2 linked regions of the Homo sapiens genome follow. The protein of the gene in region 1 purifies or fractionates together with the protein of each later gene. This does not show direct contact. Each region holds a gene or a part of one and is shown on either strand. Other genes may lie near its edges.

Evidence for each region. Proteins that work in one complex are often made in the same cells at the same time.
Region 2: the proteins of MTCL3 (region 1) and RIOK2 purify together in Homo sapiens (affinity purification with mass spectrometry; one large-scale study listed by BioGRID and IntAct). This does not show direct contact.

Annotation. Positions count from the first base shown.
Region 1 is NC_000006.12:127,481,336-127,484,835, reverse strand, and holds part of MTCL3 (microtubule cross-linking factor 3 precursor), read left to right. Parts: intron 1-1,851; coding exon 1,852-1,923; intron 1,924-3,500.
Region 2 is NC_000005.10:97,173,248-97,176,747, reverse strand, and holds part of RIOK2 (serine/threonine-protein kinase RIO2), read left to right. Parts: intron 1-1,432; exon of another isoform or gene 1,433-1,531; intron 1,532-3,484; coding exon 3,485-3,500. UniProt on the Homo sapiens protein: Serine/threonine-protein kinase involved in the final steps of cytoplasmic maturation of the 40S ribosomal subunit. Involved in export of the 40S pre-ribosome particles (pre-40S) from the nucleus to the cytoplasm.

The DNA of each region.
Region 1 (3,500 bases):
AGTGTTTAAAAATTAGCTGAGATAATGTATGTGAAGGGGTTGACATGAATTAGGGCTCAATGACAGTTAATATTGTTCTTGTATTATCATTGCTTTCATAACACTGTGTTGAATTCCAGACTGAACAGATCATGCCAAGTAAGCTGAGAACCCCCAAAAGAGCAAAGATCACATTGGTTTCATTATTATTGTGTCACAGGTATGTTATGAAGTGCATTGGTAGTCACTAAATAAACACATAATTGAGTGAATTCAAATACAAGCATTCAATAAGTATTTAGTGAAACAAATTCAACGCTTCTTGTAGGCAGCCCCTACCTAGAATGTTCCAGGTTTCTTAGTTTAGCTCACTTTATTCTTGGTATTCTTGGGACTGTTTTGTTGATTACTTCCTAAATTACTTTTTGGTTATGGTGAGTCAGTCCCCAAGCTTTCCTTTCTAAGAAGATTATACAAGCAACAGAAAGAACTTCTTCCTGTAAAGAACTAGAAATGAATAACCACGTGGGCTATTCATTTGTCTGTGTAGTTTCAGTTTCATACTGAATGAAAGCAGTTGCACCAAAGTATTCCCCTGCCTTCTGTGCTTGAACGTATGCCTTTACTTAACAGTGGATATGGGTTAGAAATTAACATGTGAAGAATTTAATTTTCATTTCTTTGCGAATTTATGAAGACTCCTGTTTGGAAAAGGCTTCCCTATTTTTACTGTCAGTCTATACCCCTGTCCTTCTCTTTGACCTCAGAACCTCGATTTGGTATTCATATATCATTAGTTCAGCAAGTATTTTTTTCACCACCTGCCATGTGGCAAGCACTATTTTTATGGTGGTGATGCCACACTAAATCAAAACCCCTGCTTCACAGAACCTAAAGCATAGCATTTATCAATTTGCACTGTAATTGTTTGCTTCTCTGTCTCCTCCCCTGCTAAGTTTCAGCTTCCTGATGGTAGATGCAGTATCTAATCAAACTTTGAGTCTCCCCCTCAATGTGTAGTATATGGTAGACAGTCATACATACGGATAATTATTGTTTACATACAGAGACCCTTCTTCTTATATTGGTGTGAGAAATGGAACTGAGCACCAGAGATCATATTACGCTTGTCCTTGAAACAGTTTGGCACTAGCTGTGTATTCTTTGACTTCCAAAGTGTTAGTTTGAATTTTAATTAGGATCAGCCAGTAAAATGTGGGAGATTTTACATAAGAATCCAGATTCCCAGCTTCTCTTGTAAAAGCCCACATTCCTGTATCACACAATGAGCTGAAGCTGTGGCTGGTCCACCTGTTTCTTGAGATGGGGCATGCCTTCTCCATTTCACTACAACCCCTACCATGCCCTATCATTTTGCACGTGTCGAGGAGGAGCAAGGGGGTGATGTGTGGTGAGGGGAGAATGAAGTGCTTCCGATTCTACATAAATTCACTGAAAGTGTGTGTTCATAAGCTTATAGCAACCTAACTCCCAACATTGGAAATAATAACTTACTTTTTTTCCTTCAGTGATGTGGAATGCTAACAAGCATTTGTTTACATTTGAACTATATATCATATTGAGTCAACAATCAATTTTGTCTGTTGTTTTTCTGCATTTTCACAGTAGGTTTCCTGTATTTCTCAAATTAAATAATTGCCAGCTACATTCTACTGTGATGTGTATCCTAGTCCAAAGTAAAAATATATCTAAATCTATCTGGTTTAGGATTTTTTTTCCTCCTTTTATGATTATTGAACTAACTCTTTTTATTTGTCTTGGTTTTGTCGTTTGAGACTAGAATACTTAAAAACATAAAATTGAATTAAAATTATAGTTTATCCAACTAAATATATTCATGCTTTGTTTCAGTTATCCTTAAAAAGAAGAGGAAGCAAAGATTTGCCAAAATCTGAAAAAAAGGCTCAACAGACTCCCACAGAGGTATGTGGAAATAAAATTTCAACTAGTACACCAAGTACCTCTAAGTGTATATAATCACAAACTACATTTATAAATAGATATAATGGCCAGATAAACTTATGCAAAACAAAGTCAAATTTGCATATCAATTATGTAGCTGTAGATACAGGTAGTATAAATCAGAATATTTACTTATAAAGCCAACCATAACATCCCTATTATAATTGCTTTACATTGTAAGCACACAGAAAAATGTCATTCGTATTTTATACGCTGCTATATTTGAGAACTATACTCATGATGCTAATCTTGTCCTTTTATAATTAATAAGGTCAATAGAAAGGCTGTTCCTATAGTGTCAGGAGAAAGTAAAGAAAGGAATGTTGCAGAGGGAAGTCAGAAAGGAGAGAAAGGCTCATTATATCTTTAGAGAGCCCTGGAATGAAGTAATTCTCCATACCAGTGATTGGAGAAGCAAAAGAAAGGAGACAAAAGAATAAAAATGAAAGTTGAAAGATGTACTCAACATGGGTTTGTTAAAAACCTTAGAAGCACAGCCACAGTAAAGACTAGCTTTGCTTTCAAGGTAAAAAGAGGTGCCAATGGTTGTAATGAAGAAGATTTTAAAATGGAAGAGGAAACATTTGGGATAAAAATGACACTATTGTTAAGGAAGGGGATCCCAATCCAGACCCCAAGAGAGGGTTCTCGGATCTCGTGCAAGAAAAAATTCAGGGCGAGCCCATAGAGTAAAGTGAAAGCAAGTTTATTAGGAAAGTAAAGGAATAAAAGAATGGCTACTCCATAAGCAGAGCAGCCCTGAGGGCTGCTGGTTACCCATTTTATGGTTATTTCTTGATATGCTAAACAAGGGGTGGATTATTCATGCCTCCCCTTTTTAGACCATATAGAGTAACTTCCTGATGTTGTCATGGCATTTGTAAACTGTCATGGCACTGGTGGGATTGTAGCAGTGAAGACGACCAGAGGTCATTCCCGGTTTTGGTGAGTTTTAGCTGGCTTTTTTACTGGAATGCGTTTCATCAGCAAGGTCTTTATGACCTGTATCTTGTGCCAACCTCTTATCTCATCCTGTGACTCAGAATCCTTAACCATCTGGGAATGCAGCCCAGTGGGTTTCAGCCTCATTTTACCCAGCTCCTATTCAAGATGTAGTTGTTCTGGGTCACACGCCTCTGACATTATAACTCTCCAAAAGCACTTGGCTAGATATTAACCTTTAAACTATGTCAGTTGGAATCTATGGTACTGTAGTATACTTTTGTGATTACAAGGTTTTTTTCACATTAGATAGATAATTTAACTAAAGTGATTTTAAATATTCAAAATTTGAAAAAGTTGATCTCAGACATTTTTTAAAGCATAACATATTAACTATATATTATTTTCCTTTTTCCTCTCTGTACCTGCTCTGTTCCTGCTCTGTTTTCTCCTGGTACTTGCACCAGAACATGTATGGACCTCAGCATTTTTAGAATCCCAGAGAGTCTCACAGCCAAGACCATGATATCATTTTTTGTACCTTTCTCTCTGTTCCCTTAGTAAGTCCAAATATACTCTGTCACTACAGCTTTTCC
Region 2 (3,500 bases), on another chromosome or scaffold:
TAATTATCATCTGTAGAAACCTTAGTGTCTCAGATAAGTTGGCTAGTTTTTTGTTTCACATAAAGGAACAAACATTTATAGATTTATATGTATATTAAAAATGGTAAAAATTGGCTGGGTGCAGTGGTTCATGCCTATAATACCAGCACTTTGGGAAGCCGAGGTGGGCGGATTACTTGAGGTAAGGAGCCCAGCCTGACCAACAAGGTGAAACCCCATCCCTACTAAAAATACAAGAATTAGCCGGGGATGGTGGTGGCCACCTGTAATCCCAGCTACTTGGGAGACTGAAGCAGGAAAATCACTTGAACCCAGGAAGCAGAGGTTGCAGTGAGTGAAGATTGTGCCACTGCACTCAAGCCTGGGCAACAGAGCAAGACTCTGTCTCAAAAAACAAAAATGGTAAAAATCTTTAGTTTTTAAGAGGTAAGGATGAAGAGAAGTGGGTTAAAGGATACAAACATACAATTAGAAGGAATACATTCAATGTTTGATAGCAGAGTAGGGTGACTATAGTAAACAAAATGTATTGTACTCAGGAGATGAACACACTAAATACCCTGACTTGATGACTTCTCATATATACTTAACAAAATGTTACATGTACCTCATACATTTATACAAATAGAAAAAAATGCTTAACCTGGCAGATGAAATGTCAAAATCTCAAAGACGGTTTTCTCAGGGTTAGGCCTATTCATTGCACTTCAGGTGTGCTGACCCCTGCAGTTTCCCCAAATATTGGAACTTGACTGCATATTTTGTGGCACTGGCGGACTACATTTATACTGTCCCCTGACATTAAAAAAAAAAATCCTTTATTTTTAACTTTGCCTTCAAAATTAAGTTCAGCATAGATTGTTAAATATAATAATATCCAAATTAAATATATCCAACAATAACTAAGTTAAACAAAAGATAATATTGTGTTTTTATAATCCTGCCAGTAGGATTTGTCATAGTTTATCTTCATTTTTCAAAACAATGTGAATTAAAGATTGCTACAGTGTGTGAACACCTGTTTCTTGAGGATTCAGCTTGTTCTTTGAGTGGGTTATATACTTAAATTTTCACTAATCATGGGAGATTTCTTAAGGCAGCATAAATTAGTAATACTGATACCATACATGTCAATGTACTTCTTATACTAATAGTTTGTATCTTGTAATATTCAGTCAGTAAATGAGCAGCTTGGTAGGGATCATTTACACATTTTCCCAAAAGGGTAGTAGGTGTTTTTCAGGATATTTATATTGAAGGTATAGGAATGGAATCTGGTTGCACATAAATGCACTCCTTAATGTATTGATTATTCATAAGAGAGGAACAAGAAGATAAAGATTGGGCTATAGCATGAGGTCTAGGCGATAGCACAAGTTCTAGACAAATATTCACAATCTTTAAGTTTATCACGTGCTATTGATCTGTCTAGGTATGCTCAAAATGGTCTACACTGAAAAAAAGTATTTAAAAACAAAGCAAAGAAAAATATCTGGGAAGTGGGAAGTGGTTTGGTTCTTGTTCACAGAAGGTAAGCAATAGACAACCTTTTGAAATTAATTGCTGGGGTAGTGTAGGGTGAAGGAGTGGATGCCAAAGAAATAACCAGTACGATCTGTGTCTTAAAGTTGAGAAGATAACACATGAAACAGAACCTTTTATTTATTTATTTATTTATTTATTTATTTTCAAGACAAGGTCTCACTCTGTCACCCAGGCTGGAGTGCAGTGGCACGATCACGGCTCACTGCAGCCCCTACCTCCTGGGCTCAAGCCATCCTCCCACCTCAGCCTCCCAAGTATCTAGGATCACAGGCATGTGCTACCATGCCTGCTTTGTAGAGACAGGACCTTGCTGTGTTGCCCAGGCTGCTCTCAAACCCCTGGCCTCAAGAGATTCACCCACCTCGGCCTCCCAAAGTACCGGGGTTATAAGCGTGAGCCACCACTGCAAGTCTAAGAACAATTTTTTTTTTAATTATATACTGAATTTAGAGAAACTTCAGTAAGTGATAGAATAGTTGATGGAGGAGGTTTCAGGTAGTGAGTGGAGCTGAGTGGAGCCATGAAGCTTGGATATTATTTGACCCTAAGACAGTGCATTTTGGCAGAGAAGTGGTATGGGCAATGACATGAATCTATGTGAGTCCTATGTGTTTAGGTGACACTGAGGTGACTGTCCTGACTGCGTTTCTTGGTGTGTATTGGAGAGAATATTGGGAGAACTAGGACTGTACAGGTGGATTAAAGAGTTTTGAAAACCAGGAAAAGTTTATATTTACAAACTGAAAAGAAAATTTACAGCCAATGTAAAAAAAAACTTTTTTTGAGGTGTAGTCTTGCTCTATCACCCAGGCTAGAATGCAGTGGCACGATATCAACTCACTGCAACCTCTGCCTCCCGGGTTCACGCGATTCTCCTGCCTCAGCCTCCCAGGTAGCTGGGACTACAGGCATGTGCCACCACGCCTGGCTAATTTTTTTGTATTTTTAGTAGAGATGGGGTTTCACCATGCTGGCAGGCTGGTGTCGAACTCCTGACCTCAACTGATCCACCCGCCTCGGCCTCCCAAATTGCTGGGGTTACAGACGTGAGACTCCATGCCCATCCCAATGTATATATTTTTAAATGGAATATTAACATCAGCAGGTTAGTCTGGTATTGGTACATAGAATAGGTTAGGTATGATGGCAAGAGCTAGAACACTTGTGGAGTAATGAGGTATATGCCTCCTTACAAGTATATGTTGGTGCAAAAGTAATTGCAGTTTTTGCCATTCCTAATACTAGCATTCTAAATGTCAAAGGGCATAAATCTAAGGTATTTTAAAGAAAGTAATAACAGGGCTTTGTAAACAGTAAGATTGAAGACAGTAAGCTTAGGGGAAAAGATGTATGGAGAGTCTTAACACTTGAATCAGACTACAACAGTGTATATTTTTCACATAATAGATTTATATTGCATATTGTGGCCTGGAGAAAAAGTTCAGTGCCCTATAAACCAAAATGTCTGATCTCTTAGAATGCCTCATTTCCTAATATGTCCGAAGATGAGTATTTCCTAAATTTGTTTCCAATTTAAATATTTTGAGCACATTTCAACAAATGTCAGAGACTTACAAAATAGGAAAGGATATACCCTAAGAGACTGTAAGCTTCTTGGGGGCTTTTTGACACTAATTTTAGAGTGTTTAGAAACTTTTTAACATTCATTTTTGTAACCCCAGCACAGTGCATAACATTTTGTAAATGTTCATTTTTTGTGGAAAAGTGAATTCAAACTTTTGTTTAAAATTTGCTTTTTATGTGTGGCTAATTCTACGCAGTGAATAAATAAGCTATGCATAAATAACCATGTGTTAACTACAATTTTATAAAGGTTTGTGTGTTTTTTTTCTGGTTGTAGAAAGGTATATTTACTTTTATTGTTCTTTAAAGAGTAATGACCTGTTCATTAGCTTACACCTGTTTTGCAACATTTTAGGCATTGTATGAGAGGA